4 separate regions of the Homo sapiens genome follow, and all the other regions are linked to region 2. Evidence: fine-mapped expression QTL. A gene starts in region 2. Each other region holds a variant in brackets. All regions are shown on one strand. Distances are between the middles of the regions. Region 1 holds the start of TRG-CCC4-1 (tRNA-Gly (CCC) 4-1). Region 2 holds the start of CROCC (ciliary rootlet coiled-coil, rootletin). Region 3 overlaps ATP13A2 (ATPase cation transporting 13A2). Region 4 holds the start of LINC01772 (long intergenic non-protein coding RNA 1772).

What was found. PIP is the estimated chance that this variant, and not a neighbour inherited with it, causes the effect.
Region 1: its variant is fine-mapped to the expression of CROCC in whole blood (INTERVAL, PIP 0.98).
Region 3: its variant is fine-mapped to the expression of CROCC in whole blood (INTERVAL, PIP 0.92).
Region 4: its variant is fine-mapped to the expression of CROCC in whole blood (TOPMed, PIP 0.95).

Annotation. Positions count from the first base shown.
Region 1 is chr1:16,674,683-16,682,919 of GRCh38, forward strand. TRG-CCC4-1 (tRNA-Gly (CCC) 4-1) reads right to left here and starts at 3,659; the gene lies at 3,589-3,659. RefSeq lists an enhancer at 2,168-2,217 and a silencer at 2,248-2,397. The variant G/A (reference allele first, on the strand shown) is at 4,529.
Region 2 is chr1:16,919,372-16,926,612 of GRCh38, forward strand. It overlaps CROCC (ciliary rootlet coiled-coil, rootletin), which reads left to right and starts at 2,560. Exons shown (of 37, transcript NM_014675.5): 1 at 2,560-2,707; 2 at 3,292-3,427; 3 at 4,954-5,108. The coding sequence starts at 2,648. RefSeq lists enhancers at 1,202-1,974, 1,975-2,746, 2,747-3,518, 3,519-4,290, 4,474-5,084 and 1 more.
Region 3 is chr1:16,982,894-16,991,130 of GRCh38, forward strand. It overlaps ATP13A2 (ATPase cation transporting 13A2), which reads right to left. Exons shown (of 29, transcript NM_022089.4): 21 at 7,234-7,394; 22 at 6,994-7,110; 23 at 6,798-6,877; 24 at 5,429-5,581; 25 at 5,245-5,341; 26 at 4,153-4,376; 27 at 3,912-4,063; 28 at 3,570-3,739; 29 at 3,065-3,465. The coding sequence ends at 3,328. Among named protein-coding and RNA genes, the nearest start is that of MFAP2, 6.4 kb to the left of the region's middle. The variant CCCCAGGGCTCCT/C (reference allele first, on the strand shown) is at 3,856.
Region 4 is chr1:16,457,650-16,465,886 of GRCh38, forward strand. It overlaps NECAP2 (NECAP endocytosis associated 2), which reads left to right. Exons shown (of 8, transcript NM_018090.5): 8 at 1,193-2,429. The coding sequence ends at 1,241. LINC01772 (long intergenic non-protein coding RNA 1772) reads left to right here and starts at 3,299. Exons shown (of 2, transcript NR_147210.1): 1 at 3,299-5,638. The variant C/T (reference allele first, on the strand shown) is at 3,655.

The DNA of each region.
Region 1 (8,237 bases), 240 kb before region 2:
GCAGTCCGGCCTGGGCGACAGAGCGAGACTCCGTCTCAAAAAAAAAAAAAAAAGAAAAAATATGGCAAAATTTCATCTAATTAAATGCTTTGAGAACTAAAATTAAAATCCAAAGCCACTGGACAGACTGCTTCTTGGCCAAGGAGACCCCAGAGAAGTCTTAAATACTGAGTTCCTGCCCAGTAGTTGGAATCTCAGACACCTCTCCTTATACTCTCTCCCTTTGTGGTTTAGACACAACTGACCAGCATTATTGTTAAAATAGAGATCCTAAGACTGACAGAACAGACTCCTTGCAGTAGGAAGATACGGTATGATAAACGAGACCTAAGGCCACGCCAGGCAAGGTGGAGTCATGCGCCCCTCAACTTAAAGAATAAACTATGTTCTAATTGCCACAGGTCTTTTTCTTCTTCCTTTTTTTCTCTAGCTAAACAAGCACTGGCCTTGAGATAAGCAATGCTGAAGCACTTGCAGCTCACCCATTACCATAAACTGACTGAGCCCTCCCTACACAAGCCATAACTACAGCTTTGATTGGACAAGAGACTGATTTCAGTAACTTCCCCTTGATAAGAGAGCACTGGCTGTGGACGGGTTCTGGACGGTTTACAGAGGCTGTGCACTTGACTGCCTTTGTGTCCCTGCTTCCCCTTTTGAAGCATAGGGCCTAATTATAATGTATTTAAATGTTGTCTCCACCCCAAAGTGAACATGGGTTGCATGTAACAGGCATGTTTACTCAGCATGCATGCAGCAGGATCCCTTCATGAATATTCAGAGCTCCTCCTATTCCCTGTTGAATATGTATATGTGGCCCACCACATCAACATAAATCCCTGTTCCCCCCTCCCCTCCCTGGAAACGTACTTTTCAGGTTTCAGCAGCAAGAGGGTATGCCTCCCTGTCTGTCAGAATGGCCACCTTGCAGGCTGTAACCCTTTATAAAAAATAAAATCTCCCTTCTAAATTTATAAATTGTGTGATTTTTCAGTTGACAGCTTTCAGTCAGACTTTTCACTGACTGGGAAAAGTCATTTGCAATATATTTATTTTAAAAATGACTCCTCAGGATACAAAATTCTTGTGCAAAAATCACAAGCATTCTTATACACCAATAACAGACAAACAGAGAGCCAAATCATTAGTGAACTCCCATTCACAATTGCTTCAAAGAGAATAAAATACCTAGGAATCCAACTTACAAGGGATGTGAAGGACCTCTTCAAGGAGAACTACAAAACACTGCTCAACAAAATAAAAGAGGATACAAACAAATGGAAGAACATTCCACGCTCATGGGTAGGAAGAATCACTATCGTGAAAATGGTCATACTGCCCAAGGTAATTTATAGATTCCCTGCCATCCCCATCAAGCTACCAATGACTTTCTTCACAGAATTGGAAAAAACTACTTTAAAGTTCATATGGAACCAAAAGAGAGCCCGCATCGCCATGTCAATCCTAAGCCAAAAGAACAAAGCTGGAGGCATCACGCTACCTGACTTCAAATGATACTACAAGGCTACAGTAACCAAAACAGCATGGTACTGGTACCAAAACAGAGATATAGACCAATGGAGGAGAACAGAGCCCTCAGAAATAATGCCACACATCTACAACTATCTGATCTTTGACAAACCTGACAAAAACAAGAAATGGGGAAAGGATTCCTTATTTAATAAATGGTGCTGGGAAAACTGGCTAGCCATATGTTGAAAGCTGAAACTGGATCCCTGTTCTCATTGCTTGCACCTGGGAGACACAGGTTGCAGTGAACTGAGATTGAGCCATGGCACTCCAGCCTGGGTGACAGAACGAGACTACATCTCAATAATAATAATAATAGTAATAATTTACTGTTCTCATAAAAATTAGCGGATGGGGAATGGAGGCAAGCCGGTGCAAACCATGACAACTAGTTTAGATTTTATTGTCAACTCATGAAAAACTCGTTCTCATTTTGTGTTTTTAAAAAATTCCACTGATACAGCCGTTTTCTCTACCGAAAAAGACTATAACCGCATTATTTCATCACTGGAAGCTACAGACAGAGGGCCCTTGAGAGGCGGCATCTTCACCTACGGGAATGTTTCCTGCTCAATTGTGAGACAAAGAGCATGTCCAAGTTTTCCTATAGGCCAGGCCGCCCCCTAGTTTCTGCGCTGTGGGCTAAACTCCAGAAGCTGGCGCCCTTCAGGGCCAGAGGTTTCCTGTGCTCTCTGGAGGCTGCTAGGATTAAAGGCAAAGCAAACGACAGGTCTATTAGCCACAGTTGCAGGATAGAAAACACTACTGTGACTCAGATTAGAACAGAGGTTGTGGCAACCACAACTACAAGTATTAACCACTACACGACCACAAAGTCTGCTGACAACCATTGCACTTCTTCTATTTTTTTAATGTAAAAACACTCACACTATTTTATCTGGTTTATTCTAGGACGTCCGCAGATTTTTGTGCTTTTCTGTCTTTCATGTGCTTCTCCCTTTCTCTCCCCATTCTGCTACATAATTTAAAAAAAATCTCTTCTCTCAGGATCCAGCCACTGCCTCTACAACAAGCCTCCTGGGAGGTCTCTTTGTCCCATTGACATCTCTGCCTTCTTTCGCTGCTTTTTTTTTTTTTTTTTTTTTTGACGGAGTCTCGCTCTGTCGCCCAGGTGGAGTGCAGTAGCGCGATCTTGGCTCACTGCAACCTTTGCCTCCTGGGTTCAAGCGATTCTCCTGCCTCAGCGTCCCAAGTATAGCGTCCCAAGAATAGCAGGTGCATGCCACCACATTCGGCTAATTTTTGTATTTTTAGTAGAGATGGGATTTTTCCATGTTAGCCAGGCTGGTCTTGAACTCTTGACCTCAAGCGATCCATCCGCCTTGGCCTCACAAAATGCTGGGATTACAGGCGTGTGCCAACGTGCCCGGCCAAATTTCAGGCCAACACCTGTTGACACACATTGCCAGACACACGGAATCCCTCGCGGAACACCGATGGGCCCACAAAACACGCGGGGGCTGCGGTCGCTGATGATGTGAGCAAATTCGATTCACGGTGTCTGGGGTACAGCCCTGAGGGTTCACTGGCCACCTCTGCGCAAGGACCAGTCTCCGCCGCTCCCCTCATCTCCACGCAGATTCTTGCCCACACACCTCCCCTTTCTTTGGGCCGATGACAACTCTTGGACCTCTGAGGTGACTGTCCTGCCCGCAGCTTCTCTCCTTCCAAGAGTGTCATTTCTTGATCCTCTCCATAGTGGCTCAACGGTAAGCCCAAGGTCCAGCACGCGAATCAGGAAACTGATGGTTCTTTGGGTTTGCAGGGATCCTTCCAGTGAATAAATGAAAGTAACAGGTACCAGTATCAAAACTGCAGTGACTCACCAGAGACACTTCATGCTTGCCAGCTTGCTAAGCTGTTTGAGTCCAACAACTGCATGGGGTCCTGGGTTAGTCTCCTGCCGCTACTTTGGTGAGTGTTGTTGTCACTTTACCTTGTGGTGGCCAAGCCCCTAAATGCACTCTTGGGTTATGCAGTATAATTTTCAGCGTAAAAGACAAGTAAAGAGCCATAGCGAAGTGAAAAACAACCACGTGCAGTGGCCGGGAATTGAACCCGGGTCTCCCGCATGGGAGGCGAGAATTCTACCACTAAACCACCAACGCCTCTCTGGAACTACCCCCTGGAGGATAACAGAAAAGAGTAACCACAAAGATTTAGAAACTGTTCTAAGCGGTTTTTTCAAGTGTCGACTAAAAGCTAACAAAGACATCCAAACCAAATGTGTTTTTATAGGAAACTTTTATTAGACAACGTTATAAATATCAAAATAGCTCATTTGTCGGATCAAACTCTTAACTCTGAAAAAGGTCTTTCTACCTGCATTACAAACCCCTATAATAAAACATCAGAAATTCATTCATGTTTCTTTTTTCTAATCCTAAATCTTCCATCATCAACCTCAAACTGCTGCCTTAGAGGTTCTGAGAAGGTAACCTAACTGGTAGTTTAGGTAAGTAAAGTTCAAATCCAGGGAGGAAATAAGAAGCAGAAGCAGAATTAGAAGAAAGACGAAATAAAAGGACAGAACCACGGTAGAGATAATGAAGAAACAAAGGTTGGTCCACTAAGTTAGTCTTTTGTCGTTGGTTTTTTTTGGCAAAAGAGTAATGATCGGTCTCGTAATCATTATAATACTATTATTTGTCTGCTTGAAGATGTATAAAGCATTTGAAGGAAATGTGATGTGAAAAGATGAAGAACGCTTGCCGTCAATGTTTCATTGTTTGGGAGAATCCCATTTCCTAAGTTAATATGCTTTGATGTGTTAGCTATGTAAGCAGTAGACTAGTTTAAGGAAATATTGACGGTCAAATATTAACATATTAGTCTTTTGATGAAGTTCAAATATTAGAGAGATTTCTTTCCTCAATTTTCAATGGAGACATTCAACTGAAGAGACAAATCCAGAGTTTTCTCCACATGTTGGGTCTGGGAGTCATTATGACTTTTTCAAAGACAGGAGCTGTGACAT[G/A]GAATCATGCTTCTTCTCAAGCTGAGAAGCCAAGCTAGGTCCAGGCTGAGTCATAAACTTGAGCCCACCAAGGAAATCATCCTTCACATTGACCTCGCAGAGCTTTGGCTGTTCTCTGTTCTTTGCCCAACACCCAAGACACACACCAGCTCTGGCCAACAAACCTTAACATATGATCTATATCAACCAAAGCTACATTTATTCCCAAATCTCCTTCTAAAATACAAACCTGTACTTTCTACTCTCAACTTCTAAATCTACCAAGGCCTCATATGCATCTGAGTCACAGATGCTAAAACTTAACCGGTTTTCTGAGGATTATTTGAGGAAGGGGTATGCATGCAAATGTATATACATAATTCATGTGATTTAGGAATATGGACTCTATGACTTCCAGATGCAGATTTAGAACCTTTTTAAAAAATATTTTGTTTTTGTTGTCTTGCAAATCAGCCAGATCTGCAACTTACCAGAGTAAAGCCAAACCAAGCGGGACCCTTAGGAAATGCGCTAAGATGTCATCCACTTTCAGTGTCAGCCTGTGAAAATTCAGGCGACAGAAGAGAATAAAGAGAATCTTAAGGAATTTCTGGAACCAAAGCTAATATTAAGCAGGCCTCTTGCTGGCAGACCAGTGGAAATTGTACCTGGTCAACAATCTGTCTAGATTGAGGAGGTCTAAAATGTAGCCACAGGTTCAAATACTTTTCTGTTTGTTTCCCAACCTCGATTAAACTCACAAAATTTAGGGACCAAAAAAACAAACAAACAAACAAAAAAAAAAACAAACCACGACGTTCCCACCCAGTCTCGAATCAGGGACTTTTCTCGTGTGAGGCGAACATGATAACCACTACACCACAGAAACTGCATATGCACCAAAAAAGGCAAAATATCATCATGAAAATCTTAGATCAGCCATTTCTATTATCGTTTCCAAAGTAAGAAATTCAACTGCATTTCGAAATTCGACTGAAAAAAGCCCAATAAGCACCAGCCATCAAGAAGACTATGGCTCCCAATAGGCCCAGGCTTAGCGTTCCGCGCCCACCCCCAACACGAAAACCATGGGGACCCACACCCGGGCTTCGGGGACACATACCCGGGCTTCGGGCTCCCGCATCCTCCCCTGGGTATGCAGTTCCAGAACTAAGCGCCGTGTGCGGGATCCTCCCGGCTGACACTCTTCGGCTCCCAGAAGCTGCAGGAGCCGGCGGGCTTTGAGCCTCCGAGCCCTGGGCGCCCCGTGCCTCTCAGGAGGGTGGACGCCGCCCTTCCAGGGATGCGGACCCCGCCTCGGGGCCTTTTCCCCGGCGCCGGCCGTCGGGGCTCTTGGCTCTTCTCGTCCTCCCAGGAACCGTAGAACCCTCCTTGCCCTCCCTCCCGTAGGCCGAGGGGCGTGAGCTGCGCCTGTTTCCTCACGGACCCTTTGGCCTCAGCGCCTCGATGTCTTGCAATTCTTAGCTCACGGCTCTTCCTCCTATAACAAGGCCCTTCCATGTCATGTCCCCTACTCCCTCTTAGCACCAGAGAGATGTCTCCCCTGCCCCACAGGTCACATTCCATGAGTGGTGAAGTTTCTAGAGTTGTAACCATGGCATCTCCAGCCCTGTGTGTTCCTCTCCATGCTCCCCATTGAGCAGTCTTGATCCTATATTAGCCCCAGGAAATGAAATAGAAACAGGACCCTACGTTAAAAAGTTGCAGTGGAGATGTGGTGGCCACCAGGGGCTGGAACTGTGGGGTGACTGAGAGTATCCAAAGCCCTGTGGCCAACTTACTGGTGCTGAGTGTGCTGGTGAGCCTCTCTGTCAGCTGGCTTCCCCGGGCCAGTTGCTCCCGGAAGCTCTGTCCCAGGTAGTAGTCAATGTCATTGCTCCTTAGGAGATCCTCAAAAGATTTTACTGTATCTTTTGCATGCTGGGTGAGAAGATAACAAACACCTCTCCCTTCTCGTATTTTTTGCCGTAGGTAAGACAGTTCCCGGGCCTGATCCTGAATCAGGGAATCATATTTCCTAATGCAGGACAGAAGAGGAAAGGGTGGATGATAAGTTATGGGGGCTTCTGTAGAGATTTCTATGAGAACATCTCTAAGGAACTCCCCCAAACTGAATTCTGGCACATAAGCCATAGGAGGCATTTAACAGCAAATTCTACCCTGATAAAGTATCGCACTAAAAATTTTAGTATGGGCCGGGCGTGGTGGCTCATGCCTGTAATCCCAGCACTTTGGGAGGCTGAGGCAGGCAGATCATAGGTCAAGAGTTCGTGACAAGCCTGGCCAATATGGTGAAACCCCTCCTCTACTAAAAACACACACAAAAATTAGCTGGGCATGGTGGCACATGCCTGTAATCCCAGCTACTTGGGAGGCTGAGGGAGGAGAATTGCTTGAACCTGGGAGGTAGAGGTTGCAGTGAGCCGAGATGGCACCACTGCACTCCAGCCTGGGTGACAGAGTGAGACTCTGTATCAAAACAAAACAAAACAAAAATTTACCATGCCACTGTTCTTCAACTGTTATATATATGTTAATTATATGTCCCTAGATAAATTTTTTGGGAGCTGGGCCTCCAGCTGGGATACTCTCTGGAGGAGACTCTTCAGGTCCTTTTTGGCCTGAAGTCCTGGAGAGTAGAAAGCCCCAGTGCCATCAGACAGCCACAACTCATCCTCATCAGTGACACTATGAGGTGAAGACCCCTCCAGGGTGTCAGGAGCTCTCAGCTTCCAGGGTCTTTCCAGACTAGATGAATAATCACTTGTAACCAAGAGGGACTGGACCCGGTTCTTGAGGTTTTGAATGACCTTGTTGGCATTCTGCAGCTGGGCCTTCAGATCTTTGATGTCCTTTCATAGGACCCAGATGTTTTCTGACTTTCCATATACCCAGAACTCTTCCTGCCTCCCTAGTTCATTCTCCAAGGGCTTCCTCTCAGAGGAACTAGCCAGCGTTCAGCCCCGGCGCCCCTGCTCAGAGCACAGCCCCTCCACCAGGACCATTTCCTTGCGGCTGCTGTGCTCCTCATGCTCTGAAAAAAGACAAAGATGTCTTCCTAAATAAAAGTTGGATGTGCTGTTGTGGCCACTGCCTTTGAGAGGAGGCAGGTTTGGTCATGAGGACAATAATTACTAGGGAATAAGGTGAAGTCGTACTTTATTCAACCCTGACACTGTACTAGGCATTCAAATACAGTATTTCTTATCCTCCTTATACCCACAAGTTAGGTTTCACCACTTTCTATTTTACTGACTGGGGAAACCAAAACTTAAAGAGAGGTGGTAAACCAGCTTGTTCTAGATCACTCAAACTAGCACATGGCAGAGCCTGAATTCAAATCCTCCAACGTCCTGTGTTCATTCCACACACACTGATGTTTCTCAAGCCATTAACATGGCCTTATCTAGTTAGGATAGCCACAAGAACGCAGGACAAGCTATTTCTGCATGCTGCAAGTTTAATGCTCTCTAAAGTTTACTATAATTTAAAAGTTTATTGGGTTACCACTGTGTGAAAAATAGGCATAGGAAAATAAGACTTCGAATAAATATATCAGCATGTTAACATCAGTGTATTGGGGCAGTGGTAGTCAGAATGAGAACTAATCCACAGCATTTTACCTGATGCCAGACACTGTTCTAAAGCATTTTATAAGAATTTACTCATTTAATTCACATTAGTATCTGATGGGGTAGGTAGTTCCTTT
Region 2 (7,241 bases):
GTTTTCTCATCTGGAAATAGGTTGAAGTAAGGATTTAATGAGATAATGTGAATATGCCCCCTTTGGGGCACAGCATGGAGCAGAGGGCACCCAGGGACGGAGGGCTGAGGCATAGCAGTGTAGCAGGACAAGCCGCAGGCAAAACTCTTCAGTCACCAGGTTAAAGAAGGAAGGAACTTTATTCGGCTGGGAACTTCAGGAGACTTGTGTCTTAAAAGCCGAGCTCCTCGAGTGAGCAATTCCTGTCCTTTTTTAGGGCTTACAACTCTAAGGGCAGGAGCCCAGACACGTGATGCTAATGACAATAGGAACAGTGGCCCCCATTGGCTAATAGCTCACCACCTGCCAGGTGTGGTAGGTACTATCAGTCGCATTTTTTTGTTGTTTTTGGTAGGACAGAGTCTCGCTATGTTGCCCAGGCTGGTCTCAAACTCCTGGGCTCAAGCGATTCTCCCATTTTGGCCTCCCAAAGTGCTGGGATTATAGACCTGAATCACCACACTCGGTCTAGTCTCATTTTATTTTATTTTATTTTTTTGAGACAGACTCTTGCCCTGTCACCCAGGCTGGAGTGCTGTGGCACAATCTCGGCTCACTGCAACCTCCTCCTCCTGGGTTCAAGTGATTCCCCTGCCTCAGCCTCCTGAGTAGCTAGGATTATATGCACATGCCACCACGCCCCAGCTAATTTTTTTTATATTTATTTATTTATTTATTTATATTTTTGAGACGGAGTCTTACTGTGTCGCCAGGCTGGAGTGCAGTGGCATGATCTCGCCTCACTGCAACCTCTGCCTCCCAGGTTCAAGCGATTCTCCTGACTCAGCCTCCCAGGTAGCTGGGACTACAGGTGTGCACCACCATGCCTAGCTAATTTTTGTATTTTTAATAGAGACGGGGTTTCACCATGTAGGCCAGGATGGTCTTAATCTCTTGACCTCCTGATCCGCCTGCCTCAGCATCCCAAAGTGCTGGGATTACAGGCCAATTCTTGTATTTTTAGTAGAGATGGGGTTTCACTATGTTGGCCAGGCTGGTCTCAAACTCCTGACCTCAAGTGATCTGCCCGCCTCAGCCTCCCAAAGTGCTGGAATTAGAGGCTTGAGCCACTGCACCTGGCCTGGTTTAGTCTCCTTTTAGAGATGAGAAAACTGAGGCTCAGGGAGGTAACCTGTTCAAGGTCTTACTGTCTTGAACACCATAGTTGCAAGTGACAGAGCTGAGTCTCACATGCAACCTCAGACCTGATACTGACTCCAGAGCTGTGCGCCTAAGCACTAGAGCACATAGCCTCCTTGCCCCAGGGAAAGAACAATGGGAGGTGGTGGGTGACCTCTGGGTCTCAGGGCCCTGGGATATAGGGACTGTGCCTTTTTTTTTTTTTTTTTTGAGACAAAGTTCCACTCTTGTTGCCCAGGCTGGAGTGCAATGGCGCGATCTTGGCTCACTGCAACCTCTGCCTCCTGAGTTCAATCGATTCTCCTGCCTCAGCCTCCCAAGTAGCTGGGATTACAGGTGTGCACCACCACACCCGGCTAATTTTTGTATTTTTGGTAGAGACGGGGTTTCACCATATTGGTCAGGCTGATCTTGAACTCCTGACCTCAGGTGATCCACCCGCTTTGTCCTCCCAAAATGCCGAGATTACAGGCATGAGTGCCTGCGCCTGGCTGGGACTGTACCTTCTGGATTTTCAAATGAATGAAATGAGTATTTCTTGAGTGTTGGCCACGTGACCCCCCAGCACCATGTCATGTGCTGGGTATGCACACACGATACTGTTTCATCCCCGGACGGCTCCGAGAGATGAGTACCAATATTATCACATCTTACGTAAGAGGACACTGAGTCTCAGAGAGGCAAAGTCAGTGTCCCTGGTGCACCCAGCTAGTGGGGGCTGGGGTGGGTGTGAAGGGGCCAGAAGCTTCCCAATAAGTGCCTGAAGGGCAAGGCTAGGGCATTTGTAGTTCGAGGCTCTACCACTGTGTCTAGGTCAGACCTAGGAATGCCGCAGGTGTTGCATAAATGCTCATCAGTCCAGGCTGGACCGCTCATGCCCAACTAAGTGCCAAGCCTGGCCTGGGTGATCTCACAGCCTGCATTCTTTGCCCTACACCTGTTGTGGGAAAACATACTCCCAGCATGCTGTAAATCCTCTCATTCTTAGCTAACCATGTGACTCCCGTTCTGGGCCAGAAAGATGGTCACAAATACTTAGGACTCTGGCCTTTCCCGCCGCATGGCTACTGACCCCACCCCCTGGGCTTGGAGGGCTCTAGGACCCAGCAACCTGCGCAGGGTGAAGAGTGTGTGAGGTCCTGACCTCCAGGTGTCTCCCCTGTTTCCTCCTCCCATTCCCTCTTCTCTCTCCTCCCTCCTTTTCTCTCCCTTCTCCTCCCCTCTCTTCATCCTTCCTCTTCCTTTGGCTCCCTGCCTCTGCTTCCCTCCTCTCCTGTCCTTTCCCATCCCCTCCCTCCTCAGCCCACATCCTGCTCCTCCCACCGCGGTGGTCACATGGGGGCGCCGCCGGATTTAAGCTTAATCTGCCTGGTGCTCAGCACAGCATCCTGGCTGTGGCGCGTGCTGACTGAGCTAGTCTTGGGGTCCTGGAGAAGGGGGCTGGAGGCATGCCCACAGCCTCCCCCCCATGAGCTTGGGGCTGGCGGGGGCACAGGAGGTGGAGCTGACACTAGAGACGGTTATCCAGGTGGGTCCTGGGGGCTGTGCCCACCCTGTCTGGGGCGGGGCAGCGTGGACTTAACAGGAGTGGTGAGAGGTGTGTGCGTCTTGGGGATCAAGGGGTGGGAGAGGTGTGGTGGTGGTGGGGTATACAGGGGCCCCCCGCTTGCAGTTCCTGGCAAGATGGGGGGCAGAGGTACACACAGGGTGCACCTGCTGTGGCTCCCTCATCCCAGTGCCCTGGGTTGGGAGAAGGGGGTCTCTACTGCCAGATTTTAGGGCTTGGGGGACCTCTGGCATAGCCAGATCCTCATCCATCTAGGGTCGGAACCGGATTGGGGCCCCCAACACTGGACTGCCTCCAGTGGGGTTTGGGAGTTACCCGTAGGGTTTGGTTCTCATCTCTGGCCCTGGGCCTTCTTCCTGGGGCAGTGAGCACACAAGAGGCTCTTTGCATGGGGATTTTTTGGATTCTAACTCCCAGGCTTCACTCCATCTTGAGGGGGCTCCTGGGGACCTGTATCTTGGGCAGTAGGATTCTGTGGCTCTCCCCACGAGGCCAGGGAGCCCCGGGTCCCATGTCCCCTGAAGACCCTCTCGCTTTTCCCACAGACACTGGAGAGCAGCGTCCTGTGCCAGGAGAAAGGCTTGGGCGCGCGGGACCTGGCCCAGGACGCTCAGATCACCAGCCTGCCTGCCCTTATCAGGGAGATTGTCACCCGCAACCTCTCCCAGCCTGAGAGCCCAGGTGCCACCCCCATCCGCTCCCCTCCACAAACACCACCCACATTTTACCTCTTCTCATGTCCCTTTCCTGAGCAGTCACCATGATGATCATGACTGTAACTCACTGTGGGGCAGGCACAGCTTTATGACAGAAGAACCCATTTTACAGATGAGGAAACAGAGGCTCAGGGATGTAATTTGTCCAGACTTATTCCGCATGTGGTGCAACTAGAAGGAAGGGCCGAGCATCTCCTGCGTGCTTGCCTGTAGCCTGCTGCAGAGATGTGAACCCCAAATCCCGTATTCCCACCCGGGGAAGGTGTGAGCTGGCTGAACCCAAGATACAGGAAGAGGGCAGCTCAGCTCAGACCAGGGTTTTGCGGAAGTCTGAGTGGATGGCGCCGTCCATCCGTTTCCCACGTGGGCAGGAAGGCGGATGGTCCCTGCTCCTCTCAGTGGGTGGCGCACACGGTGTAGTTATGTGGCTTGAGGATCTGGGAAAGGCACACTCAGTTGCAGCTGGTGTGCTGGCGTGTGGCGTTTTGGTGCTCTAACCATTGTCTGTGTTCAACTCCCAAGCTACAGACGGGCCCCCTCCTTGGGAGCGCCAGGGATGTTGGCGCCCTGGAGCCCCAGACAGGGAGAGACTCAGAGGGCCCTCACCCTGACACCTGGGGTGTATGTCCAGTTCTCCCAGGGTAGAAGGGGAACCCACAGGAGGTGGACAACCCCGCTTCTCCCGCTGGCCTTTCTTTCCCTCTTCTCTCTTTCTCCTTCTCCTCACAACCTGACCTATGCTATGCTCTCCTGAGCCCTAGCCTTTAAAGTTCCATGAAGCCCTTCTCTTGAGCGAGGCTTTGATGCTTTTCTGGGAGGATCTGGTTACTACTATTCTACCTTTTTTTTTTTTTTTTTTTTTTTTGAGACAGAGTCTCGCTGTGTTGCCCAGGCTGGAGTGCAGTGGCGCAATCTCAGCTCACTGCAACCTCCACCTCCCCGGTTCAAGTGATTCTGCTGTCTCAGCCTCCCAAGTAGCTGGGACTACAGGCATACACCACCATGCCCAGCTAATTTTTGTATTTTTAGTAGAGACAGGGCTTCGCCGTGTTGGCCAGGCTAGTCTCAAACTCCTGACCTCAGGTGATCCTCCTATCTCGACTCCCAAAGTGCTGGGATTACAGGCGTGAGTCCGTGCCCGCCCCACCCATATTACAGATAAGTAAATCTGAGGCCCCGGAGAAGAAGACTAATTGGAAAAGGAGGGAGCAAGAACTCAGGGGTCTCCTGGCTCCTAGACTGAGTGTCTCTCCTGCACCTCCCAAACCTGCTGGGCCACACTTTAGCTGGAGTTGTGTTCACTTTACGTCCAGCTTTGTATCCCCTCCTTGCCTTCCTCCCTGTTCTCAGCTCTGTTTGCAGGCCTGGTGCTGCAGCCATTCCCATCTGGACTCCTCCCAGGGGCCTGGATGGTTTTCTTGCCCTCCCTGTTGGGGGGAGGATGTCCCACTGGACCCAGAAGCCAACCATGTGCCCACTGTCCCTTGCCAGTCCTGCTGCCGGCCACAGAGATGGCATCGCTGCTGTCGCTGCAGGAGGAGAACCAGCTGCTGCAGCAGGAGCTGTCCCGCGTGGAGGACCTGCTGGCCCAGAGCCGTGCCGAGCGCGATGAGCTCGCCATTAAGTACAATGCGGTCAGCGAGAGGGTGGGTGCCGCCCAGGTGGTGGACTAGGCCAGGGTTCCCCTCGTTCAAGGGCAGGGAGGCATCTAGACCAGGCCCACACACGGGGCAAAAGATGGGCCCTGGAGTCAGGTTGGCCTGGGCTTGGATTGAGGCTCTGCCACCTTGAGTGGCGTTGAGCAAATCACTATGCTCTTTAAGCCTGTTTTCTGTAGTGGGGATTGTAATGGGACGTGGAATTGTAGGAATCAAGGAGATAATAGAATAAAGTGCCTGGCACCAGGGGTATTTTGTTCCCATCTGTCCCAGGCCTGTTAGGGGTGTGGGACACGGAGAATGAGATCCCTAAAGATTCCTGCCCCTTGAGTTTCTGGGCATCTCCCATTGCCACGGGCCTTGGGGTTGAGGCGGTGGCTGGATGCTGGCTCGAGGCTGGTGTGGGCACCCGCGGTGTTCTGCAGCCCATCTGGGGCAGCCACAAGACCTGCCGCCACTGCCTATTGGAATGAGTTCCAGGCAGGGAAGGAAGGAGAAGCAGGCCTGTCTTCATGTCCAGGCAGGATTCACATCACCCGTGCTGCAGGCTTGTGGGGGTCCCAGGGTGTGGGGCGGGAGCTGGGTGTGAGCCGGTGCGAGGGGTGCGGGATGCTCTTGATGCACTGTCTGCTTTGGGCCTCCGGGTGGCCGGGAGGTGGCCCTGGGAAGTTGGTGGTGGCTGAAGATTGGTAAGGGACACTCGCAGCTGGGACAGAGTGTATGTGTGCAGATGAGAGGCATGCAGGTGGCAATAACGTATTAACAGTAGCTACTGTTTATTGAGTGCCTACTATGTGCCAGGCGCGTGCTGAGTGTTTCACATTTAATACACCAAGGTCGGGACCATTATGATGCCCATGTAACAGAGGAGAAAACAGAGGCTCAGGGAGGGGAAGCACCATGCTGGGGGCACACAGCCAGTTAAAGTTAGACACCAGGTCTTCCAACTCCCAGCCCAGGGCTCTGTTTGGTTTCTAAACTAACCCAGTCTAGAAACAAAGTTCTGAAGTTTCATTTCCTGTGTATGGGAAGAGACACTGGGCTAGGGATTTCAGGGCACAGCTGGCCCCCACAAAGTTGGAAGGGACCCAGAGAGGCAGGGGCTGGCCCAGGGTCCCCTGTGTGGTAGTGGCAGAGCTAGGGTTGGCATGGGACCCCTGAGCTGGACTTGTCCAGGCTGGAGCCCGCATTGGCAGGAGGGTGTGTGTTCCTGTGTATGACTGTGGGGTGTGCCCGTGTCCTGGGATTTGCCTGGCTGGACAAACCCACGACTAGTTGGGACTTGTAGAGGAGCAGAGTAGGCGGCCCGCAGTGGCCCCTGGCATGAGGACAGTGGAGAGCTCGTTTCCCCAGGGTCTGCAGCGGGTGTGTAGGGCACGCTGGCCCCAGTCATGAATTGTGGGTGGTGATGGGGCCCTGAGCCAGGCACCCCTTTCTTTTGGTCCATGCATGGCACAGTGCCACACCCCCAGGGCCGCCTCTTAAATGCCACCTTCTGAAGCTAGCCCTGCCCCCAGGTTGGCAGGGAAGGGAAGAGGTGGGAGGTAGCAGGTTCCTCCTCTGCTGGGACACAGCTGCTGGGGCTGGGACTGCAGCACAGGGGGTCTGGGTTAGTCTAGAAAGCTCCCTCCTGTGGTTAGTGGGGGCCCAAATGGCACGCAGAGGGCGCCCGCTGCTTCAGTTGTCCTCTATCCACCATGGTTTGAATGAGGCCCCACCTGGAGGCAGGGGTGGAACAGGAATGACCTCAAAGGCCTTTCCTGGAGGGTGGGTCCCCAGAGAACTTCAGAGCCTAGAGATCACCTCATCACAGATAGGGAAAGTAAGTCCGGGAGAGGGGCATGATAGGCCCAAGGTCAGTGGTGGTCCTGGGATGAGACCCTTGGTCCAGGGCTCTGCAGTTGGGCAACATTCTCTTTCCCTGCCACCCCCTTGTCCCCATGGCCACAGGTGGCAGTGCCTGCCCCTGTGGCCCTCACTGGCATGTTGGGCTGGGTTGGTGGGCAGTCAGCGAGATTGTTCTGATCTTTCCAACCCTGCAGCACCCCTGGCATGGGGAGCGGAGGGAGGGTCAGGTCTGTGTCCTGTTAACTGCATGTCCTGCAGGGAAACTGAGGCACT
Region 3 (8,237 bases), 64 kb after region 2:
GTTGTCCAGGCTCGTCTCGTACTCCTGACCTCAGCTGATCCACCCACCTTGGCCTCCCAAAGTGCTGGAATTACAGGCGTGAGCCACTGCACCTGGTCAAAAGGCTGATTTCTTATTTAGTTGACACCACCATCATTTGCCTGGGCTCTGCGATAGCCTCCACTCTGGGCTCTCCCACGTGGGTCCTGCCTCCCTCACCCCCGCAGATCGTGCCCCTTCTACTGATCGCCTTTCACTCAGGTTAGAGGCTCAACTTCCCTGTGGCTTCCAGGGCCCCGGCCCTTTATGGCAGCCTGGCTCTGCCTCCTCTTCCTCCTCCAGCCACTGGCCTTTGGGGGTTTTCTCCCAAACCCCTCTCCCTCCCACACTGAGGCGTTTCTTCCTCCCGAGCACTGGCTGAGGTCTCCTCCATGGGGTCACAGATCAAACCCTCCCTTCCTCAGAGGGGCCTTCCCTTTTTCCTTTTTTTGTGCTTTCTAGCTTTACTGCTTGCAGTTGTCTTGTTGGCCTATGTCTGTGACCATCTGAGCCCTGTCCCTCTTCCCGATGAGACTGTCATCTTGCCCCGTGAAGGCCAGGACCAAGGCTGTTTTTGCTCATCTTCAGTTTTGCTCATTAAGTTCAGAGCCCGGCTCAGAGCAGCAGTTCAGCAAACATTGGTGGAATGAATGAGTGAACTGTACACTAAACTCTTCCCGGAGAAGCTGGCTGGGGGTGCAGATCCTCTGCGTGAGGGGCAGCCTTCAGCCCTGCCCAGGAGCCTAGGCCTGAGGCGGGAGTGAGAGTTGTAGGGGCTGCGGGCTGGGAGGAGATGAGGATGGCCCCTGATTTAGACCCTTGCCATCTGATCTCTTCATCGCCAGTCATTCCCCCACCTCCCTTAGACTCTGAGTCTTAGGGAGGGAGTAAATATGCCCTGTGCCTCCTTCATTCCCATGCCCCGCCCCCCAGTGTCTATTGCAGGGCAGCAGAGACTTTTGTCACCTGGAGAGAGGTGGGCCCTCAGGCCAGGCCAGCCCAGCCCTCTCTGCCTGCCCTTAGACCCCACTGCTGCCAGGAGCAATCCCACTGGCAAAAGAGAGGAACTCACCCAGCAGAAATGCTGTCCCCTACCCTTGAAAAAAGGAGGGAGGTTGGGTGCAGTGGCTCACACCTGTAATCTCAGCAGTTTAGGAGACCAAGGCGGGTGGACCGCTTGAGCCCAGGGGTTTGAGACCAGCCTGGACAGCATGGCAAAACCCCATCTCTACAAAAAATACAAAAATTAGCTGGGTGTGGTGGTGCTGGCCTATAGTCCCAGCTACTCAGGAGGTTGAGGTAGGAGGATCACCTGAGCCTGGGGAGGTAGAGGCTGCAGTGAGCCACGATTGCACCACTGCACTCCAGCCTGGGCAACAGAGCAAGACCCTGTCTGAAAAAAAAAAAAGAAAAGAAAAGAAAAACTGGGAAACTGAGGGGCTAAAGCTGACAATTCGTGTCCTGGCTCCCATGTCCTCTCTGCTGCTTCTACCCATTCCCCTGGCTGTTTCTTTGGGCAGGGGAGGGGATGGGGCTGTGGTTGCTGTGCTCCCACTACGTCTTTGGAGATGTGCTCCTTCCCTGCCAGGCTTTCACGCTGGATGGTGAACTGCTCGCAGGGTTAGACCATGTTTTTGTCCCGTTTTATTCAGTTTGTTGAGTTAGTCCTGGTGCCTGGCACACACCTGTCCAACAGATTCATGAATAATCAGCTAAGGGTAGAGGAGGGATTTGAACCCAGGCCTCTCTGTGGCTTCCTCTTAAACAGCATCTACCACCCTGAACCGTCGCTGGCTGGCAACACAGTGCCAGGAGCAGAGGTCCACTGTGATGTGCCTCCTGGCAGGACTTTCATCTTCACACCCACATCCCTTCTCCCCAGCATGATTCAACGTTTTCTCAGCCCCTACTCTGGCAGGCCTGGGGATAGCACCAGGGGTTCCAGGAATGAGGTTGGCCAGGGCTTTTGGAAGGCAGGAAACAGCCGGTCTTTCCTGTTCTCCCCTGCCCAGATGAGCCAGACGGCCAAGCTGCCTCTCTAGAGCAGAGGGGCTTGGCCAGGGGCCCGCTGGTGAGATGAGCTCAGAGGCACCCACCCTTCCCTGAGGGATGATGCGCGTGGTTCTGGCTGGGAGATGTGGGCTCCGAGCCTGGATTTCATCTGAGGAAGGAACTGCCCACAAACATGTCCCAGGATGCTGGGGTGGGACGGGGAGGGGGTAAGGTGGGAGAGAGGGAGCTGCCCCCTAGCAAATGCCTCCCAGGCAAGCCTACATCTCCTTGTCCTCCAAAGGAGGGTAGGAGGGTTAGGAACATCGAAGCTGGAGTCAAAGCTATCCGGCCCCACTCTGACTACTTGTGTAACCTCTAAGCCTTGGTTTCTTCATCTGTAAAATGGGAATAGTACCACAGTTGTTGGAAGGATGACATGACAATGTGTGTAAAATGCTAAATGGGGCCAAGCGCAGTGGCTCACGCCTGTAATCCCAGCACTTTGGGAGGCCAAGGTGGGCGGATCACCTGAGGTCAGGAGTTCGAGACCAGCCTGGCCAACATGACGAAACCCTGTCTCTACTAAAAATACAAAATTTAGCTGGGCGTGGTGGCACATGCCTGTAATCCCAGCTACTCGGGAGGCTGAGGCAGGAGAATCGCTTGAACCTGGGAAGCGGAGGTTGCAGTGAGCAGAGATCACCCCACTGTACTCCAGCCTGGGTGACAGAGCAAGACTCCATCTCAAGAAAAAAAAAAAAAAAAAAAAAAGCTAAACGGAATATCCAGGCACATGCTGGACACAGAGGAAACATTATTACTGTGAGATGAGGGAACACAGGCCCAGAGAGGGGAGTTGGCCAATGGAGTCTGAAAAACCAGGGGGTTCCAGGGGGTTGTCAGGCTGAAAAACCAGCCTGAAAAACCAGCCCCCCAGGGGGTTCCAGGGGCAGACACGTGCAGGGGCTGCCAGCTGGGCACCCGGGGGTATGTGCATTTCCTCCTGGGCAGGTGGGAGGGTCTATGGTGCCAGGTACAAGACAGGCACAGCAGAGCCAGGAAAATATCATGACTTTATTTGCTACACTGACAGCAGCACTGAGGGGAGCTGGGGGCTGCCACCCCTACGCGGGATGGTCCAAGGTAGGGGACAGTAGTCAACGCTTCCCCAGGGTGGGGGTGGTCTCGGGGGAGGAGTGTAGACAGTCGCCAACCTCAGGGATGTGGGAGGTGGTGGCGGTGGTGTTGCTGGAGAGGGGTCCAGTTGGTGGCTCAGAGGCAGGGAGTTCCAGTGTCTGGGGTGCCCGTGGGCCTGCACTACCTCAGGGGGCCGGCGGGCAGCGGCGGCCAGGGCTGCTCGGCCAGCTCTCGTTCCAGCTGCTTGAAGCGCTTCTTGGAGGCCCGCTTGGGCCGGAGGCGGCGCAGGCAGGCGGGGAGGCACTGGTCTAGCACGCTCTGCAAAGGGCAGGGAGGGTGTCAGGGGCAGCCGGGGCTGAGCTGGGGTCAATGCACCCCCACCTCCCTTCTCTCCCGCTGCTGAGACCCAGGGCGGGCCCCACCTCCAGCATGAAGGCCCCCACGAAGTTGAGGGTGACCAGACCCAGCAGCAGCAGCTTGAAGCCGGTGTCAGTGATGTTCCTCAGCGCCAGCGGCCCCTGCAGGAGGCCGGGGACCAGGACAAGGCCCACCAGGACGGAGCTCAGGAGCGCCAGGGCCACCAGGAAGGGCACTGGGAGCAGGAGAGTCTCTCAGGCAGGAGCCACGCCCCCCCGGCACCCACAGACACACGTGTGCACGCCAGTCTTCCACTCGGCCGGCACCTCTCTCCCATCTGCCTCCCCAGCA[CCCCAGGGCTCCT/C]CCCTCCCTCCGCCAGCATCTCCCGCCCGCGCCCGCAGTGGCACCATTGGTGTAGAGCGGCCGGCGGAAGGGCGCCCCCTTGGACACGGCTGCAGCCAGGATGAGGTACTGGAAGCTGGACAGAGAGAAGACCACGGTGTTCTCGTAGTTGGGCAGGTTGTCTGGTGCGGCCACTGTCCTGTTCAGAGGCACGAACCTGGGGGTACAGGGATGGGGGTCAGGGAACGAACGTGGGGTGGACAGGGAAGGGGCGGGATGGGGGTGGTCAGTCAGCTCCCTACTCACCATGGCTGGGCCAGGGTCAGGAAGTAGCCCCCTAGCTGCACGCCGGTCACCAGGACCATCTGCAGCAGCAGGCTGCTGAGCACGGGCACGCTGAGCAGCGCCCCCGGTGGCCGCACCCGTCCCAGGACCAGCGCTGGCCCCGTGCGGCTCATGAGCACTGCCACTGTGGTGGTGATGACCAGGTCGATGGCCAGGAACTGCAGGTCACCCAGGTTGGTGTTGATCTGCCACAGGGAAGGGAGGACAGAGGGGAAACTAAGACCTGGCCCTGGCAGCCCCTAGTCTGATAGCAGAGGCCCCACCCCTGCCCCGAAGGAATCTGATGGGTAAGGCATCCCCCAGTCTAATGGGGGCCGTACTCTCCTGCCAGCCCAGCGGAGGAGGTGCCGCTCTTGATGTGAGACAAACCCCTGGTCTGATGGAAAGGGCACCTGTGCTGACCTTGGGGGCCTAAATCTGAGGGGAGGTTTCCCTCCCTGTAACAAACTCCCGGCCCGAAGGGGAGGCTTCGGCTCTGCCTTGCGGAGTCCCTATAGCTACCAGGGCATGCACAGTTCCTGCCCTCAGGGAGCTCCTCGCTTTCAGGCAGACACAGGGACAGACCCAAGTATAAGATGTGCGCCGCCCTGCAGTGTCACCTCATTCGCTGGGGGTGAGCAGGCCATGCCCAGAGCAGGGGAGGGGAGAGCTCCTCCAAGTAGGGTGTGGGAGGTACAGCCAAGGTATGGGGCAAAGCAAGTGCATCTGGGGAAATGGGCAGACCTGTGGGGATGGGGCGGGGGCGAGGGTTTTGGCCCTGCCTCCGTTCAGTCTTCCCTGCAGATTGGGGAGCTCCCAGAGTTGCGGTCAAGATGTTAGCCCATGACAGCTGCTGCCATTTGTGAGGACCTAGTGGGTACCAGGCTCCGTGCCTGGTGTTTTTCTCATCTCCCCCAAGCCTTGCCACCTCTCCAACCACACAGCCGGAGAGTGGCAGGGTCAGGATCTGGGCCCACGTCATCTATTCTGGGACCTGCCAGCTCCAAGGCACAGGGCTGTGTCCCCTCCCTAGTCCTGGGACGGCTCTGGGTACGGAGCTCTGCAGATACTCACCGTGTAGAGGATCAGGACGGAGATGAACTGGGTCAGGCTGTACAGAGCCATGTACTTGAAGACGCTGAACGAAGTGTCAAGGGAACAGCGCCCCTCCCTGGGTGGCAGGGCACGGACATTAGGGGACCCAGGTTGGCTGACCAGCCCTGCTGAGCCCTCACCCACCGGTCCCTGCCTGCCTTACCTGATGACCATGGGCACGCACTCAATACTGGCCATGCTCGAGGTGAAGGGTGAGACCACTGAGGCTTCTGCCTGGGACAGCGAGATGCCGACATCAGCCGCCTTCAGGGCCCCACAGTCATTGGCGCCGTCTCCGCACATGCCCACGCAGTACCTGAAGAGAGGTGTGGACAGGTGTGGCCTGGGGAATTACCCCACCACCCCATGGGTGGGCTGGCAGAATATGATGACAGCTGGGCCCCTAATGCCACATGGTGCCTGGTGTACAGGAGGCGCTCAGTGAATAGATGCAATTATTATTATTATTATCATTATTATTATTATTTTTTGAGACGGAGTTTCACTCTTGTTGCCCAGGCTGGAGTGTAATGGCATGATCTCAGCTCACTGCAACCTCTGCCTCCTGGGCTCAAGTGATTCTCCTGCTTCAGCCTCCCAAGTAGCTGGGATTACAGACGCCCGCCACCACGCCTGGCTAATTTTTTGTATTTTTAGTAGAGATGGGGTTTCACCATGTTGGCCAGGCTGGTCTTAAACTCCTGATCTCAGGTGATCCACCCGCCTCGGCCTCCCAAAGTGCTGGGATTACAGGCATGAGCCACCGTGCCCGGCCTATTATTTTTTGAGACAGAGTCTCCCTCTGTTGCCCAGGCTAGAGTGCAGTGGCGTGATCTCTGCTCACTACAACCTCCTCTGCTGCCCAAGTGCCCTCAGCCTCTTGAGTAGCTGGGATTACTGGTGTGCGCCACCATGCCCAACTAATTTTTGTATTTTTAGTAGAGACAGGGTTTCACCATGTTGGCCAGGCTGGTCTTGAACTCCTGACCTCAGGTGATCTGCCTGCCTCAGCCTCCCAAAGCGCTGGGATTACTGGCATGAGCCACCGCGCCTGGCCTATTACTATTTTTTGAGACGGAGTCTCGCTCTGTTGCCCAGGCTGAAGTGCAGTGGTGTGATCATGGCTCACTGCAGCCGCAGCCTCCCAGGCTCAAGCAACCCTCCTGCCTCAGCCTCTTGAGTAGCTGGGATGACCGGTGTGTCACCACACCTGGCTAATTTTTAAATTTTTAATAAGAGATGGGGTCTCACTTTGTTGCCCAGGCTGGCCTCAAACTCCTGGGCTCAAGTGATCCTCCCACCTCGGCCACTCAAAGAGGTGGGATTACAGGAATGAGCCACCGCACCCAGCCTACAATTATTATTTTTAGCATGAAAGACCTGGGAGAGCCTGCCTGCTTTTGGTGAGGAGGGGTGACAGCTCTCTGGTGCCTGAGGAGGGAGACAGGGCCCTGGGGAAGGACAGATGAACAGACGAACGGACAAGCTCAGTCTCCGCAGGCCCTTGCCCACACCCTCTGCCGAGCACTCACTGAAGCTTCTGTAGCTCGCACACCAGCTCTGTCTTCTGCTCAGGGGCCATGCGGGCAAAGACAGTGCCCTGGACCAGGACCTGGGAGCACAGGGAGATGGGGGAGGGCTGAGGCACCCACCAGGGAGAGCGAGCCGTGAGGAAGGAGACAGAGCAGGGGAGGCGCAGGGCGGCCAGGGAGCTGGGGGCGGCCCTACCTTGGGCAGCAGCTTGGGGAAGTGCTTCACAATGATACCAAAGGTGGGCCCGCTGAGGGCCAGGTGCCTGGATCGGGGGTCTGGCTCCACGGTGTAGCTTGCAGCCTGGTCAGGATCCTGGGGGCCCAGGAAGCTCAGCTTAGCTCCCCCTGCCCACCCTGGAGAGTTGGGGCCTGGGTCAGGTGACACAGGGGTGGGGTCACTGGGTGAGGTACAGCTGGAACTCTGGGTTAGCCTCACCTTAACGCCATTCACGGCTGTGGGGGACTCCATCGGCAGGAACTCGAGAGAGGCAGGCTGACCCCGCTCAGGGTGGGTGGCGTGGACGATGATCAGATGCTCCTGGGGGGCCACCATGCCACAGCCCCGGGCCACAGTCACCGCTGTCTGCAGGTTGTCCCCTGGGGGTTATGGGGCAAGGTGAGGGTCTGAGGCTATCCGGGGAGGCCATCCTCATCCTGATCCTTACAGATGGGAAAACAGGCTGGATGAAATCCGTCTGCCACCACCAGCCAAGTGAGCTGAGGCAGGTTACCAACATCCCTTTGCCTCAGTTTTCTCATCTGTAGATCCAGGCATTGAAGGGTCTTAGGAGAACCTGGAGCCGTGGGCTGGAGCTCCACATATACTCCTTTTTTTTCTTTTTTTAAGACAAGAGTCTCTCTCTGTGGCCCAGGCTGGAGTGCAGTGGCTTGATCTCGGCTCACTGCAACCTCCTTCCTCCTGGGCTCAAGCAATTCTCCTGCCTCAGCCTCTTGAGTAGCTGGGATTACAGGAGGGTGCGACCACACCAGGCTAATTTTTTTTGCATTTTTAGTAGAGATGGGGTTTCACCATGTTGGCCAGTCTGGTCTTGAACTCCTGGCCTCAGGTGATCCCCCTGCCTCGGCCTCCCGGAGTGCTGGGATTACAGGCACGAGCCATGTGCCCAGGCTACATATACTCCTTACTGCTGTGTGACTCTGCTGCCAAGTGCCCATGAATGTGTGTGCACATATGTGTGTGTGCAGGGGCGGGGAGGACAAGGACACAGACCTCTTAGCTCCTGCTGTCTCACCCTAGCTAGAATCTTTTTTTTTTTGAGACTGGGTCTCTCTCTGTTGCCCAGGCTGGAGTGAAATGGCGTGATCTCAGCTCACTGCAACCTCCACCTCCCGGGTTGAAGTGATTCTCCTGCCTCAGCCTCCCGAGTAGCTGGGATTACAGGCATCCACCACCATACCTGGCTAATTTTTTGTATTTTT
Region 4 (8,237 bases), 460 kb before region 2:
ATTTATAGCATTCTGTTTTTAATAGTGGTATTTCCATTTACAAAATATAGTAATTCTGTTTTTTTTTTTTTTTTTTTTTTGAGACAAGGTTTCACTCTGGTTGCCTAGGCTGGAGTGCAGTGGCGTGATGTCGGCTCACTGCATCCTTGACCTTCCAGGCTCAGGTGATTATCCCTTAGCCTCCTGAGTAGCTGGGACTACAGGCAATTGCCACCACACCCGGCTAATTTTTTGTATTTTTAGTAGAGGCGGGGTTTTGCTATGTTGCCCAGGCTGGTCTGGAACTCCTGGAATCCAGCAGTCCGCCTACCTCAGCCTCCCAGAGTGCTGGGATTACAGGCGTGAACTACCATGCCTGGCCCAAAATATAGTAATTATTGATTACTGAAAAAGTCAAATCCTAGAAAACGCAGCATTCTTACATGTGATGTTAACATCGTTCTTGAACAGTTTTTAGCCTAAGATTCATTTGAGGAGTCTGATTTTTCCAAAATAGTTCTGATTATTCAGATGATTCTGAAATAACTCCAAGAACAGTTTTTATATTTTATTTTCACGTTGAAAATCAGTCAGATTTGCTTCAGCCTCAAAGAGCATGTTTATGTAAAATTAAATGAGGGCTGGCAGTGAGCTATATTTTTTCTACATGGGAAAGGGGTTAAGACTCTTCGGCCAGGCATGTTGGCTCACGCCTGTAATCCCAGCACTTTGGGAGGCCAAAGCAGGCAGATCACTTGAGGCCAGGAGTTCGAGACCAGCCTGGGCAACATGGCAAAACCCTGTGTCTACTAAAAGAAATACAAAAATTAACCGGTCATGTAGTTCCAGCTACTAGGGAGGCTGAGGTAGGAGGATCGCTTGAGCTCAAGAGGTTGAGGCTATAGTTGGCCTTGAGTGTGCCACTGCATTCCAGCCTGGGCGACAGTGAGACCCTGTCTCAAAAAAAAAACAAAACAAAAAACAAAACCACAAACAAAAAACTTTGGTAAATACAGTTACATTAACTATTTAAAAAAAAAAAACCATCGAGGGCCAGATTTGGTCTCTGTGCCAGAGTTTGCTGACTGCTGCTCTAGAACATTTAGGAACTGGCTTCTTAGAGCTTTTTCTGTCCAGAGAGAAACCAACTTTTATCTGCTTTGTATTTTCAAAGATCTGAACTCCCCCACCCTTCCCTGTCTTCTCTTTACAGATCAACTTCCAGCCAGACCCAGCCAGGCACAGGCTGGGTCCAGTTCTGACCTGAGCACGGTTTTTCCTCATGTGACTTCTGGGAAGGCGCTCCCTCATCTGGGCCAAAGGAAGGAGGACGAAGCCCTCCTCAGCTGGCCTGTGTTTGGGGCATGAATCTCTCCTCTCCTCCTTGTCTGGCTCTGTTGACAAACCGGGCATGTTTGGCAGTAAATTGGCACCGTGTCACACTGTTTCCTGGGATTCAAGTATGCAACCAGAACACAGGAGAAGAAAAGCTCCAGGATCCCTGTCCCCATCTGTCCTCTTGATGTGAGAGAGACTCTGAGACTTCTTCCATCGCAATGACCTGTATTAAACACAAGCCCCCCAAGCAAAAGAAGAGGTTGAGTTTGCTGCCAGGATTCAGATCAGCCCTTCCCAGGGTCTGCAGGTGTCACATGATCACAGTTCAGCGGGAGGCTTTCCGTACCCACACTGGCTGTAGCCACTTCAGTCCATCTGCCCTCCAGAGGAGGGGTTTCTTCCTGATTTTTAGCAGGTTTAGAGGCTGCAGCTTGAGCTACAATCAGGAGGGAAATTGGAAGGATTAGCAGCTTTTAAAAATGTTTAAATATTTTGCTTTGCTAATGTGCTGATCCGCACTAACTCATCTTTGCAAAAGGAACTGCTCCCTCGGCGTGCCCCAGCTGGGGCCTCTGAAGGGATTCCTCACTGTGGGCAGCTGCCCTGAGCTTCAGGCAGCAGTGTTTATCTCTGGCCAGTTGTCTGGTTTCCATGTATTCTAGGCCAGGTAGGCAACACAGAGCCAAGGCGGGTGCTGGAAGCCAGACGGAACAGTGTTGGGGCAGGAAGGTGGATGCTGTTGTCATGGAGCTGTGGGAGTTGGCACTCTGTCTGCTGGTGGCCCTCTCGGCTCACATGTTCACAGTGCAGCTCCTGGCAGACTTGGGTTTTCTCTTTGGTGGTTTCTAAAGTGCCTTATCTGCAAACAACTTCTTTTCTCCTTCAGGAACTGTGAATGGCTAGAAGAAGGAGCTCAGTAAACTAGAAGTCCAGGGTTGCTTGGTTTACTGGTTTATAAGAAATCTGAAAGCACCTCTGACATTCCTTTTATTAACTCACCTCTCAGTTGAAAGATTTCTTCTTTGAAAGGTCAAGACCGTGAACTGAAAAAAGTGTTGGCCTTTTTGCGGGACCAGATTTTTAAGATAAAATAAATATTTTTACTTCTGTCATTGTATGTGAAAGATGAATGTGTTTCTGGCCGCGTGGCTGTTAAACTCTTCAGGGTGCCACAGCTAGACTCACGGCCACTTCTCTCACCACTGACCAAGTGTCCAGATTGAAAGTTCAGGGCTGGGGTGTGAGGCTGGCCAAAGTGAGGAAATGCAACCTTGTTGTCTAAGGCAATCGGTACCTTCTCTCCTGTGTTCTCTAGGATAGTACAGTCTTTTCATCATCCTTTGGTTGATGTGAAAGTAGTTGCTTGAATCACTTTGTGTGGGGCTTAATTCTCTTGTGGCGTCTCATGATACAGGCCGTTCTAGAGAGCCTGGCCCCTTGCTTTCCGTCTTCCACCAAACCTACCGGCAGAGCATCTCCCTAAGTAGTAAAGGGGTGCAGATACCCAGAGGTCAAAAGTAAAATTAAGAGGCCGGGTGCAGTGGCTCACGCCTGTAATCCCAGCACTTTGAGAGGCCAAGACGGGAGGATCATTTGAGGCTGGGAGTTTGGGACCAGCCTGGGCAACATAGTAAGATGCATTTCTTTCCTTTTTTTTGAGACACAGTCTCAGTCTGTTGCCCTGGCTGGAGTGCAGTGGAGCAATCTTGGTCACTACAACCTCCGCCTCCCAGGTTAAAGTGATTCTCCTACCTCAACCTTTCCAGTAGCTGAGATTACAGGCACCTACCACACCGAGCTAATTTTTGTATTTTTTCAGTAGAGATGGGGTTTCACCATGCTGGCCAGGCTGGTCTCAAACTCCTGACCTCAAGTTATCTGCCCGCCTTGGCCTCCCAAAGTGCTGGGATTATAGGCGTGAGCCACGGCACCCGGCTGTTAGACCCCATTTCTTAAAAAAAAAAAAAAAAAAAAAAATTAGTGTGGTGGTGGTGCATGCTTGGAATCCTAACTACTTGCGAGGCTGAGGTGGGAGAATTGCTTGAGCCCAGGAGTTTGAGGCTGCAGTGAGCTATGATCACGGCCTCGCACTCCAGTCTAGGCAGCAGTGAGACCCTAGAGAATTCTCTAAAAGAATTAAAAATGAAAAAAAGCCACAACACTTCTTTTGCCTGAGGATTCTGTAAGAAGCAGTTTTTATTGTTATGGAAATAGCCACTCTGATTAAGAAACTGTAGAGAGGAGAAAGAAAATGAAAATTGAAGATTCTCTTGCCCATTGAATTAAGGGTAAGGAGATTGCATTAAAGGATCTTCGGGAGCAGTAACTTTTTTATGT[C/T]GATTTCACATAGCATTACTTCACATCGAGTCAGTTTTAAGTACTTGGAGGGTGGAAATCAGAAAGCTTAGATGTAGAGGAAGCTTTATTAGAAGTGTGTACCATGGCTGGGTGTGGTGGCTCATGCCCACAATCCCAGCACTTTGGGAGGCCGAAGTGGGTGGCTTACTTGAGGTTAGGAGTTCGAGACCAGCCTGGCGAACATGGTGAAACCCCGTCTACTAAAAATACAACAATTAGCCAGGCATGGTGGCGCACGCCTGTAATCCCAGCTACTTGAGAAGCTGAGGCATGAGAATTGCCTCCAGGAAGTGGAGGTTGCAGTGAGCTGAGATCATGCCACTGTACTCTAGCCTGGGCAACAGAGCAAGACTGTCTCAAAAGGAAAAAAAAAAAAAGTATGTACCATTGAAGATCAGCACTTGGATTGTGGAGACAGACCTGGCCTTAGGATCTAGGCTATCCCCTGGTTAGACGTGTGGCCACAGGCTGTTCCTTCACCTGAGCGTCACTCGGATGAGGCACTAGCAGATGCACATTGCATTGTTTGACCTTAATGACCTTTCTCTGGAGTCAGGTAAGTACCCAGAACAGTTCATCATGGTAGGGAGGAGGAGGTGGCACAGCTGATGACACAGCCCTCAGGAATCTAGCCTGAAAAGCACCTTGTGGGGTCTGGGGCCAGGAGCAAGGGACAGCTTGATGCTGTCCATCACTAACTGGAATCCCAGCTGGAAAAAACTCATTACAGGACCAGAATCTCCAGGAAAACTCAATCCCAAACCAGGCATCACTTCAATTACACCCCTGACTGGAGTTTACAAACTGGTGGGTGGATGGTAGAAGATGGCTGCTTTCTTGGGGGGTATGCTAGACCTCACTTGCCCTCTGCACAACAGAATTTGGATGCACTGGGAGGTGTGGCAGATAGACTCCCAGGTGGTCACTGTGATCCCCACCTGCTGTTCACAGCCTTATGTACTCCCTGCCCCTTGAGATGGCCTAGACCTGTGACTGCTAACCAGTAGAGTGCCACAAAGGTGACAAGATGTTATTTTCATGGTTGCCTTATGTAAGACTGCAACATCTGCCTTGCTGAGAAATTCTCTTGCTGGCTTTGAAGAAGGAAGCTGTCATGTTGTGTGAGCTGCCCTTGGGAGAGGGTCAGGTGGCTAGGAACTGAGGTAGCCTCTGACAGCCAACAAGAAACTGAAGCTCAGTCCAGCAGTCTGCAAGAAAGCAAATGCTGCCAGCAACCACACAAGCTTGGAGGCTGATCACTCCCAGGTAAGCCTTCAGGTGAGACCCCAGGCCTGACCAACACTGACTGCAGCCTTGCAGAGGACCAGCTAAGCTGTGCCCAGACTGTCCCATAGGAACAGATGGTAAATGTATTGTGTTAAGTCGCTAAGTTTCTGGTAAGGTTATGCAGCAATAGATAACCAACACAAAGGTTAGCAAAGTGTGTTTGAGGTGGGAATCAGTGTGGAAAAGAGAGAATCTGGATAGACTTAATAGCTGTAGGGCCTTGGGAGGTCCCTTATGATGCTCCTTTGGGCCTTCCTGTTGCCTTTAAGTAATGCTTATTGTTTATTGCTAAAGTAATGCTTAACTCTCTGCTAGGCACTATTCTATGCACTTATAAAACTCATTGCATCATCTCTACAACCCCATGAGGTAAGGACTTGTTTTTTTTGTGTTTTGAGACAGTCTCGCTCTGTGGCCCAGGCTGGAATGCAGTGGCATGATCTCAGCTCACTGCAACCTCTGCCTCCTGCGTTCAAGCAGTTCTTCTGCCTCAGCCTCCGAGTAGTTGTGATTACAGACGTGTGCCAGTACTTCCGGCTAATTTTTTTGATTTTTAGTAGAGACGGGGTTTCATCATGTTGGCCAGGCTGGTCTCAAATTCCTGACCTCAAGTGATCAGCCTGCCTTGGCCTCCTAAAATGCTGGGATTACAAGTGTGAGCCACCGCACCTGGCCAGTAAGTACTTGTTTTAGTCTATTTGGGACTATGACAGAATAACATAGCCTGGGTAGTTTATAAACAAAAGAAATTTTTTGCTCACAGTTCTGGAGGCTGGGAAGTCCAAGGCACCAGCAGATTCGGTGTCTGGTGAGGCCGTCTTTTTGCTGTAACCTCACATGGTAGAAGGGGCAATAGAGTACTCTGGGGACTTTTTTTTTTTTTTTTTTTTTTTTTTAAGAGATGGAGTCTTGCTATATTGACCAGGCTGATCTCAAACTCCTGGCCTCAAGTGATCCTCCTGCTTTGGCCGCCCAAAGTGCTGGGCTTAAAGGCATGAGCCACCACATGGGAATGGCACTGCCTTTTTTTTTTTTAAAGATAGTTTTGCTCTTATTGCCCAGGCTGGAGTGTGATCTTGGCTCACTATAACCTCTGCCTGTTGGGTTCAAGCAATTCTCCTGCCTTAGCCTCCCAAGTAGCTGGGACTACAGGCACATGCCACCACGCCCAGCTAATTTTTGTATTTTTAGTCAAGATGGTGTTTTGCCTTATTGGCCAGGCTGGTCTCAAACTCCTGACCTCATGATCCACCTGCCTCAGCCTCCCAAAGTGCTGGGATTATAGGCGTGAGCCACCACACCTGGCTGGGGCTTCCTTATAAGGGCAATACTGTTTGTGAGGGCTCTACGCTTATGACATAATTACCTTCCAAAGAACTCACCTCCAAATACCATCATACTAGGGGTTAGGTTTCAGTATGAATTTGGAGGTGGGGGTGGACACAAATGTTTATAGCAGTACTCATCCCTGTTTCGAAAATGAGAAATGCAGAGAAATTATATAATTTGTTCAAAGTCACATGGTTGGTAAGTGGCAGAGCTGGGATTTGAACCCAGGCAGTCTGGCTCCAGCATCCATGCTTTTAGTCAGGGTGGCTACTTCTTTGGAGCAGTGCTCCCTGCAAAGCCTGGCACATAAGACCCCCTTAATATATGAAAAGTCCCATTCCCTCCACATGGCTTACGAAAGCCGTGGCAAGTAGGAATGACAGGCGAAGGGTGGGGCTTTATTCCATTGGTGATTGAAAGCTACTGAAATGCATCATGGGCACACAGTAGGTGCTTAATAGTTGTCGATTTCTATGAGCTGGGAGTGAGAAAGATACCATGCTCTGTGGACTGAGTGGACTGGAGTAGGGAAAAGACCAATTTTTCCTCACCGCAGCTTGAATGTAGACAGATACTGTTTTTTTTTTTTTTTCTTTTTTTTTTTTTTTTTTTTTTAGCCAACCATACAAAGCCTGTAAGTAGGTACTTTATTTATTTGTATTTTTATTTTTTTTTGAGACAGATTTTCACTCTTGTTGCCCAGGCTAGAGTGCAATGGTGCAATCTTAGCTCACTGCAACCTCCACCTCCCAGGTTTAAGCGATTCTCCTGCCTCAGCCTCCCAAGTAGCTGGGATTACAGGCTTCCGCCACCATGCCTGGCTAATTTTTGTATTTTTAGTAGAGACAAGGTTTCATCCTGTTGGCCAGGCTGGTCTCAAACTCCTGACCTCAGGTGATCCGCCTACCTCAGCCTCCCAAAGTGCTGGGATTACAGGCATGAGCCACCACACCCGCCCAAAATGACCTGCATTTGTCATCTCCGCTTCTGTGGTCAGGAATCTGGTGCAGCTCAGCTGGGTCACAGGCCTCTCACAGGCTGCAGTCAAGGTGTCAGTCGAGGCCGCACTGTCATCTTAAGGCCCAGCAGGGAAAGCGTTTGCTTCCAAGCTCGCTCACGTGGTTTTGGGCATGATTCTGTTCCTCGTGGCTGTTGGACAGAGGTCACTCTCATTTTCTTTCCACGTAGGCCTCTGCATAGTTCACATCTTTGCAGTTGCTTCATTGAAGCCAGCAAACGTGATTGTGGCAAGATAGCAGTCATAGTTTTAATTCCAGAAATGATCCCATCCCTTGGCTGGGTCTTCAGAGTAGAAGTCACAAGTCCTGTCCGCACTAAGTGGAGGGTGTGGATACCAGGAGGCAAGGATCATTGAGAGCCATCTTAGAAGTCTACCTGGCCGGGGTGCAGTGGCTCACGCCTGTAATCCCAGCACTCTGAGAGGCTGAGGTGGGCCGATCACGAGGCCAACAGATGAAGACCATCCGGGCCAACAAGGTGAAACCCCGCCTCTTCTAAAAATTAGCTGGGCGTGGTGGAATGCGCCTGTAGTCCCAGCTACTCGGGGGGCTGAGGCAGGAGAATCACTTGAACCCAGGAGGCAGAGGTTGCAGTGAGCCGAGATTGTGCCACTGCACTCCAGCCTGGCAACAAAGCAAGACTTCGTCTCAAAACAAGTCTACCTGTGTATTAGCTTGCTAGGGCTGCTGTAACAAGTGACCACACACTGGGTGCTTTAAACCACCTGAATGTATTTATTCTCTCCCAGTTCTAGAGGCTGGACATCTGAAATCAAGATGCCAGTAGGGCCATGCTCCTTCCAGAGGGTCTAGGCCAGAATCCTTGCCACTTCAGGCTTCTGGTGGCCCCGAGCATTCCTTGGTGTGTGGCAGCATCACGCCAATCTCTGCCTCCTCCCTGTGTTTCCATGTGTGTCCTCTCCTTTC